Regions from separate parts of the Homo sapiens genome. Here region 2 is linked to region 1. The links come from fine-mapping of genetic effects on gene expression. Tissue or cell type: monocytes. Region 1 holds a variant in brackets; the other region holds the start of a gene. All regions are shown on one strand. Distances are between the middles of the regions.

The links. PIP is the estimated chance that this variant, and not a neighbour inherited with it, causes the effect. A credible set is the group of variants that fine-mapping cannot tell apart.
Region 2: CPT1B starts here. The variant in region 1 is the best candidate, but not a certain one, in a credible set for the expression of CPT1B in monocytes (TOPMed, PIP 0.85).

What each region holds. Positions count from the first base shown.
Region 1 is chr22:50,554,930-50,559,313 of GRCh38, reverse strand. It overlaps SYCE3 (synaptonemal complex central element protein 3), which reads left to right. Exons shown (of 3, transcript NM_001123225.3): 2 at 2,909-3,017. The coding sequence starts at 2,909. Among named protein-coding and RNA genes, the nearest start is that of SYCE3, 5.8 kb to the left of the region's middle. The variant A/G (reference allele first, on the strand shown) is at 2,144.
Region 2 is chr22:50,575,749-50,580,118 of GRCh38, reverse strand. It overlaps CPT1B (carnitine palmitoyltransferase 1B), which reads left to right and starts at 1,692. Exons shown (of 20, transcript NM_152246.3): 1 at 1,692-1,733; 2 at 2,185-2,344; 3 at 2,656-2,795; 4 at 3,085-3,262; 5 at 3,482-3,583; 6 at 3,784-3,921; 7 at 4,007-4,084. The coding sequence starts at 2,204. It overlaps CHKB (choline kinase beta), which reads left to right. Exons shown (of 11, transcript NM_005198.5): 8 at 37-145; 9 at 289-392; 10 at 612-693; 11 at 864-1,156. The coding sequence ends at 938. It overlaps CHKB-CPT1B (CHKB-CPT1B readthrough (NMD candidate)), which reads left to right. Exons shown (of 30, transcript NR_027928.2): 8 at 37-145; 9 at 289-392; 10 at 612-693; 11 at 864-1,083; 12 at 2,185-2,344; 13 at 2,656-2,795; 14 at 3,085-3,262; 15 at 3,482-3,583; 16 at 3,784-3,921; 17 at 4,007-4,084. RefSeq lists silencers at 1,661-1,780, 2,121-2,200, 3,685-3,979 and an enhancer at 3,685-3,979.

The DNA of each region.
Region 1 (4,384 bases):
CTCTACTAAAAATACAAAAATTATCTGGGCATGGTGGCGGGCACCTGTAATCCCAGCTACTTGGAAGGCTGAGGCAGGAGAATTGCTTGAACCTGGGAGGCGGAGGTTGTGGTGAGCCGATATGACGCCACTGCACTCCAGCCTGGGCAACAGAGTGAGACTCCGTCTCAAGAAAAAAAAAAAAAGAGTGTGTAGTGAGAAGAGAAGGGGCTAAAAGGACCTTCCTTGACCCATTAGAGCCAGTAAAGGAGAGAGCCAAGAAAGAGCAGGGAAGGAACTACCACAGGTGGACAGAGTTTGGAGAGAACAAGGTTAAAACATCAAGAGAAGAGAATTTTGAGCAGGAGAAAATGGCCAAATGTCAGTGCTGCAGAGATGTTAAATAAAAGAAAGACAGAAAGTGCCCTGGGTGTGCCAGTTATGACTTTGGTGAGAGCATTGTCAGTGAATGTCAGAGACAGATGCCAGATGACAGTGGAGTGAGGAGGACAGACAAACGTGTGAGGCCTGGCTGCTAAAGGAAGGAGAGGGAATAGCTATAGGAGAGGGTTAAGGAAGGTGTTCTGGACATTTCTTCCTCCCATCACCCACTATTAGCCCCCTGCCCTGCCACCTGCCTGTACCTCCCCACTTACTCTTAGCAAACTATTCCTACTTACCAAAAAGCAGGACGGAGTCCCTGCACGTGGAATGGCTCCATGCCCACAGAAGTACCTCCTTTACAGATCCCGAAAGACCATACACCCTGACCCTGCACCCTCATTCTCAGATCTGCCTGTCAGGCCTCCTGGAGGGCCCTTTGCTCCTCCCTCAGAATCTCTACCCTTAACAGGGAGGACGGCAAGAGGGGAAAGATAATAATTTTCTTTCTTTTTTTTTTTTGAGATGAAGTTTCGCTCTTGTCACCCAGACTGGAGTGCAATGGCACAATCTCGGCTCACTGCAACCTCCACCTCCCGGGTTCAAGCGATTCTCCTGCCTCAGCCTCCCCAGTAATCCCAGTAGCTGGGATTAGGCACCTGCCGCCACACCCGGCTAATTTTTATATTTTTAGTAGAGACTGGGTTTCACCATGTTGGCCAGGCTGGTCCCAAACTCCTGACCTCAGGTGATCCACCCACCTCGGCCTCCCAAAGTGTTGGGATTACAGGCATGAGCCTCCGCGCTTGGCCACGATCATGATTTTCTTTCAGAATTAGAGCTTTACAATGGTCAACTCCTTTATTCAGCCAACATTTATTAAGCACTTGCTGTTTTCCTAGCTCTGAGCTGAACACTAGGAATAGTTCATTGGAAAGATGGCCTCTGCTTTCCAGGACCCCACAGTCTAGTTGGGGAGGTAGAGGAATCCACAATCACAATACCAGCTAAGAGGCACCGTGATGAGGGAGGCCCAGGAAGTCACAGGAGAACTGAGTGGAGGCCCTTAACTCTGAAGTAAAGACCAGGAAGGCTTTCCCCACATGTACAGTGGGAACAATACCGCAGCATCTGTGGCCCATCCCTCCCTGTTTTATGCTTACCTGGCTCATTCCTTCACCTTCATGAGGTTACAAGTTCCCTGGCAGCTCTTACATTATTTATCTATTTCTCTCTTTTCTTACTAGTGCCTTGTAGATAAATAGGTGAGCATCAAATATTAACAGAATGAATTAATGTATATTAATAAAGGTGAGGAGAGGATCTGGAGTGATGTAATTACTGTTCAACATTTTAAATAACAACGGATATGATTTATTAAGTGCTCATTACGGTAGGTACTGTGCTGAACAGTATATAATTTATTTCAATTAATCCTCACAAAACTCCACAAGATATAGGTAATACTAATAATTCCCGTTTAAAAAATACAAAACTTGGCTGGGTGTGGTGGCTCACATCTGTAATCTCAGCACTTTGGGAGGCCGAGGTGGATAGATCACCTGAGGTCAGGAGTTTGAGACCAGCCTGGCCAACATGGAGAAACCCCATCTCTACTAAAAATACAAAATTAGCCGGGCGTGGTGGCACTTGCCTGTAATCCCAGCTACTCAGGAGGCTGAGGCAGGAGAATCACTTGAACCCAGGAAGCAGAGGTTGTGGTGAGCCGAGATCGTGCCACTGTGCTCCAGCCTGGGCAACAAGAGCAAAACTTCGTCTCAAA[A/G]AAAAAAAAAAAACTCAAAAAAATTACCAAAAATTTGTCGAGAAGATGTGTAAGTTGCCAAAAGTAACACTGCTGATATGAGGTAGCGCCAAGATTTGAACCCAGGCAGCTCAATTCCAGAACCAGGACAGTCTCTATGGGGCACTGCCTCTAATGCCCAGGAGAATTCTTCTGGAAAGTTAAGTTGATTATAATTTTTTTTAATGTATGAATCATTTCATATTTTAAAATTAAACGTACCCGCCTCCAGGCTCCCATCGCTTGATGTCTGTAATTATTACATTAACTGCTTCGACATCTGTCACATCCTGGTTTGTCATATGGTGTGTGTGACTTACTCCCATATTGCACTAGAAATTCCTTAGGTACAGGAATTGTATCTTTGAAACACATCAGCACAATAGCTTGCATCTTAGTGGGTACTCAATATGGTTTTGCAAGAAAAAATTCCATGTCACCATTATGACAGACTTTTTTCATTATAATGAAGATGTTTTCTGTGTTAATGACTCCAGCCTTCAGCTACGTTTGTATGGCAAAGATGGAAGAAAGGGGAAGGACAACTTATATGTGCCGAATGCTATGCTGGGGCCTTTAGACATGTTCCCATTTAACCTTCACAACAGCCCTGTGGAGTACGTGGTATTGTCTGAATCTGAGAGATGGGGAAAGAATTCCTTAGAGAAATCACTGAGTTATAACCAGTGGAGCTGGATTTGAAATGTAGGTCTGTCTGACTGCAGCTTCTTTCTGTGCATTGCCTAGATGGATGATGCTGACCCTGAGGAAAGAAACTATGACAACATGCTGAAAATGCTGTCAGATCTGAATAAGGACTTGGAAAAGCTATTAGAAGAGATGGAGAAAATCTCAGGTAGGATGTGTGAACCCAAAAGTATCTGAGACAGGTCTCAATCAATTTAGAAAGTTTATTTTGCCAAGGTTAAAGATGCACCTGTGACACAGCCTCAGGAGGTCCTCAGGACATATGTTCAAGGTTGGCAGGGTACAGCTTGCTTTTATACATTTTAGGGAGAGAGAATACATCAGTCAGTACCTGTAAGATGTACACTGGTTCGGCCGGGCGCGGTGGCTCACTCCTGTAATCCCAGCACTTTGGGAGGCCGAGACGGGTGGATCACGAGGTCAGGAGATCGAGACCATCCTGGCTAACACAGTAAAACCTCGTCTCTACTAAAAATACAAAAAATTAGCTGGGTGTGGTGGCAGGCACCTGTAGTCCCAGCTACTCGGGAGGCTGAGGCAGGAGAATGGCATGAACCCGGGAGGTGGAGCTTGCAGTGAGCCGAGATGGTGCCACTGCACTCCAGCCTGGGCGACAGAGTGAGACTCTGTCTCAAAAAAAAAAAAAAAAAAGATGTACATTGGTTCGATCTGGAAAGGTGGGACAACTCAAAGGGGGATGATTCCAGGTTATAGATAGATTTAAATTTTTTCTGATTGGCAATTGGTTGAAAGAGTTATGGTCTAAAGACCTGGAATCAATAGAAAGGAATGTCTGGGTTATGACGGTAAGGGGTTGTGGAGACCAGAGTTTTATCATGCAGATGAAGCCTCCGGGTAGCAGGCTTCAGAGGGAATAGATTGTAAAAAGCTTTCTTATCAAACTTAAGGTCTGTGTTCATGTTAATGCTAGTCACCTTTTCCTGAATTCCAAAAGAGAGGCAGGTATAACGAGGCATACCCAATTTCTCCTTCTCCTCACGGCTTGAACCAACTTTGGCCAAGCAATACACCCACCTTGGCCTCCCAAAGTGTTGGGATTACAGGTATGAGCCAGCGTGCCTGGCCAAATAGCTTTTATTCACTAGAGCAGACTTTAGAAAATTTCTCCTTAGAAATGTTTGCAATTTTTTGCCTATGTACTTTTGAACTATGAATAGCTGAGACACGTATCAGTTAATTTAGAGAGTTTATTTTGCCAAGTTTGGGGACACTTATCTGTGACACAGCCTCAGGGGGTCCTAATGACATGTGCCCAAGGTGGTCAGAGCACAGCTTGGTTTTATTTATTTATTTATTTATTTTAAGACAGAGTCTCGCTCTGTCGCCCAGGCTGGAGTACAGTGGCGTGATCTCGGCTCACTGCAAGCTCCGCCTCCCGGGTTCATGCCATTCTCCTGCCTCAGCCTCCCGAGTAGCTGGGACTACAGGCGCCCGCCACCACGCCTGGCTAATTTTTTGTATTTTTAGTAGAGACGGGGTTTCACTGTGTTAGCC
Region 2 (4,370 bases), 21 kb before region 1:
GCATTTGGGGACTGAATGTCCACCTTATTCTCCCAGGGGCTTTGACATTGGGAACCATTTTTGTGAGTGGGTTTATGATTATACTCACGAGGAATGGCCTTTCTACAAAGCAAGGCCCACAGACTACCCCACTCAAGAACAGCAGGTATGTGGGCCAGAGGCTGGGGAGCAGGACCCATCCTGTGAGGAAGGAGGGAGGTGGAGTCTGGAAGGAATGGCCGGAAAGGATGTTACCTGGGAAATACTCCACAGTCTCCCCAATTCCTGACTCTTGGCCATTGATCGTAGTTGCATTTTATTCGTCATTACCTGGCAGAGGCAAAGAAAGGTGAGACCCTCTCCCAAGAGGAGCAGAGAAAACTGGAAGAAGATTTGCTGGTAGAAGTCAGTCGGTGAGGAAGGAGGGGCAGGGTGGGGTAGGGCAGAGCAGAGGAAAGAGGGATTGGGGAAGAGGCAGATTTATCAAGCTGCAGGGAAGGTGGCTGTGGAGAGTGGAGTTAGGACAGTGGGGGAGAAGTTAAAACTGTAGGGATTGGCCAACCTGGGTGAGGGGATCCAAGCAGTGCTAGACATGCTCTTGAATGCCCCTCCTTTTCCTGCCCTCCCCCCAGGTATGCTCTGGCATCCCATTTCTTCTGGGGTCTGTGGTCCATCCTCCAGGCATCCATGTCCACCATAGAATTTGGTTACTTGGTAAGTGACCCTGGGGATGGGAATGCTAGCTGGGGGGCTGGGGAGCAGCAGCAGCCACACTCTTCCAGGAGGCCTGGGGAGTCCCGGGTGGCTGTGGGCAGCCTGAGGTGGATGTAGAATGCTGGTCCCACGTCTTCTCACCACTGTGTGGGGTGGGTTTCCTTCCCTAGGACTATGCCCAGTCTCGGTTCCAGTTCTACTTCCAGCAGAAGGGGCAGCTGACCAGTGTCCACTCCTCATCCTGACTCCACCCTCCCACTCCTTGGATTTCTCCTGGAGCCTCCAGGGCAGGACCTTGGAGGGAGGAACAACGAGCAGAAGGCCCTGGCGACTGGGCTGAGCCCCCAAGTGAAACTGAGGTTCAGGAGACCGGCCTGTTCCTGAGTTTGAGTAGGTCCCCATGGCTGGCAGGCCAGAGCCCCGTGCTGTGTATGTAACACAATAAACAAGCTTCTTCTTCCCACCCTGTCCTGGCCCTGCTGAGCAGCAGCAGAAAGTACCAAACCGAGCAGTACACACAAAGGGACTCTTCAGTGCTCTGGGATTGAAAGTGGTTAGCGTTCATGCTGCCAGTTGGGGTCCCCCATCCCTCCCCAGTCCCCTGGCTGCAGCTTAGAATAATAAATACTAGGACTTGGGGAGGAGGAGAGTGATGGGGGTATGAAGACGACCCTGAGGTGGGGATGCCGCCCGGAGCACCAGCGATCCCAGAACAGGCAGCAGCTGACACATCGGTGACCTTTTCCCTACATTTGGCTATTTTTAGCTCTAAAGCCACCATCCTCACGAGACTCTGGGGCCCCCCAGGCTCCCAGACCTTTGAGCAACCTTCACCGCACAGAAACCCAGCCGCGCCCTGCAATTCCCACCGCGGAAGGTGGGTGGGTTCTGGTTCTCGCCCCACGTTTTTCCCCGACCCCGATTTGGGAGTAGGTGTCAGGTTCCTGGTGAGGGCGGGGCGGGGGTGGCTAGGCCTGAAGGACGTGGGGACACGGGCCAGAGTGGCTGGCCCCACGCACGGACAGGAGTGAACCCGAGCTGTGAGTAGGGGCCGGCACAGGGCGGCCCGCGGGGGTCTGGGCCCTCAGCCCTGCACAGGGGCGAGGACGGCGCTGGGGCCCGCGCGCTCGGGTGGGGAAGGGCGGGCTCCCGAACCCTGCCTCTGTCCAGGCCGGCTCCACTTCCAGGGGCGCCTCTCTCCCCTGCCCGCGCCCTCGCTGACGCCCCCCAACTCCAGGCTGCCCTTCGCCGTCCTTGGGGCTCCTGGAGCTTTCAAGGCCCAAATCCCCTGCACCACAGTGGCTGTGCCCACCCGGAAGGCTGGCGCGAGGATTTGGCGGCGGTTGGCCTGGCGGGGGGCGCGGGCCGGGGGCAGCCGCTAGTCGCGGGGTGGGGGGCGCGAGGGGTCGCGGACTGGCTGGGGGCGTCTCGGCGCGGCTGGCGGCGGGGCCGGCCTAAGCGCGCCCGCGCACCCATCTGCCCCCGTCCTAGGTGCCGACCAACCCCCAGGATGGCGGAAGCTCACCAGGCCGTGGCCTTCCAGTTCACGGTGACCCCAGACGGGGTCGACTTCCGGCTCAGTCGGGAGGCCCTGAAACACGTCTACCTGTCTGGGATCAACTCCTGGAAGAAACGCCTGATCCGCATCAAGGTGCGCACAGGTGCTTCTCCCAGAGCGTAGGCAGAGGCCGGCTGTCAGCTGTTAAGCGCTTTGTTAGGGTCCCTCACTGCCTCCTTGGCTGGCACTTCTGCCCGGTACAGGTTGTGGAAGTACAGACACCAGAGGGGTGCACAGGATGTGGTCGGACACAGGGAGCTGTGGGTGTGGCGGAGGAAGGAGCACAGCAGGGCATCAGGAGAGAAAGCCTTCCAGGCCAAGACCAGGAGCCAGTTCCCAAGACTTCACAGGCAGGCTAACCTCCCGCCTTCCGGCTCCATAAGGGCGCCTGTTTCTGCCCACAGAATGGCATCCTCAGGGGCGTGTACCCTGGCAGCCCCACCAGCTGGCTGGTCGTCATCATGGCAACAGTGGGTTCCTCCTTCTGCAACGTGGACATCTCCTTGGGGCTGGTCAGTTGCATCCAGAGATGCCTCCCTCAGGGGTAAGGAGTGAAACTGGAAGGGCACAGGTGCCACCAGGGAGGGCTGGGCCCAGCTCCCAAGGCTGAGGTTCCTGAGCTGGGCAGATACAGGACAGCAGCCATTGGCAGTCACGGGGCAGCCCTCCCCTATGACAACCATTGTCTTAGCCCTACATCCGCTCATTTGATGCAGTCAGACATGAGTGTGCCCAGGGAGGTTCTTCCCCTTGGTGTCTCCCCTGAGACAGTTCACAGCCACCCGAGGCTGGCCTCAAGAGGACCCCCTGCAGCCCTTGCCCCTCTCCAATAGGTGTGGCCCCTACCAGACCCCGCAGACCCGGGCACTTCTCAGCATGGCCATCTTCTCCACGGGCGTCTGGGTGACGGGCATCTTCTTCTTCCGCCAAACCCTGAAGCTGCTTCTCTGCTACCATGGGTGGATGTTTGAGATGCATGGCAAGACCAGCAACTTGACCAGGATCTGGGCTGTGAGCAGCAGCCAGTGGAGGGGTTCAGGCACCTGGGTTGAGACTCTTTGGACTCCTTTGGGGTTCTGAGCTAGACGGGAGAGGCAGACAGGGCACTGGTGCCTGGTGTGTGGTTTGTCCTGGAGGGGCTGGGATGGCTCTGAGGGTCTCAGGGAGTTGCTGGTTGGTTTCCATTTTTTCCACTGGCTCCCACCCCAGCACTCTGCTCTGTACCCCCAGATGTGTATCCGCCTTCTATCCAGCCGGCACCCTATGCTCTACAGCTTCCAGACATCTCTGCCCAAGCTTCCTGTGCCCAGGGTGTCAGCCACAATTCAGCGGGTGAGGGCCTCGCTTGGGCATCCCAGTGGGCAGGGGAGGTTGGATTCAGGAGATGTTTCCAAATATAAGGTTCTGTGCAAAGAGTGGCCTTAAGGGCTTGAGAATAATGGGGCTGGGTGAGGAGGGAGAGGTGGGAAGAGGATTAAGATAGAGGCAGCCCTTGCCATCTGGCCCCACGGTGATGATAACTGGCTGGACAGTACCTAGAGTCTGTGCGCCCCTTGTTGGATGATGAGGAATATTACCGCATGGAGTTGCTGGCCAAAGAATTCCAGGACAAGACTGCCCCCAGGCTGCAGAAATACCTGGTGCTCAAGTCATGGTGGGCAAGTAACTATGTAAGTTCCTGCCCCTGGGCTCACTGTCACCTGCCATGTGTCCTGGCTGCACCCGCCCCAGCTCTAACCTTCCACCTCCCCACAGGTGAGTGACTGGTGGGAAGAGTACATCTACCTTCGAGGCAGGAGCCCTCTCATGGTGAACAGCAACTATTATGTCATGGTATGAACTAGAGCCCCCAGGTCCCCGCACGTGCTCAGCTCTGTCCCAGCTCCAAGGCAAGGGATCTGGAGGACAGCCCAGAGCTCTAGTAGCAGCTTCCGTGGGCAAGTGGGGGTTATGGAGTGAGGCCTGAGGGAAAGGGAAGAGAGAGAGGAGATCCTAGAAGAGTCCAGAAGCAGCTTAGGGGCAATGGGGATCCTAAGGATGAGGAGAGTGGAGACCGCCAGCCTGCCACCGCTTCTCAGAGTCCCGGGGTCACTGCCCCTGCCCAGCTCGGGCTCTGTCA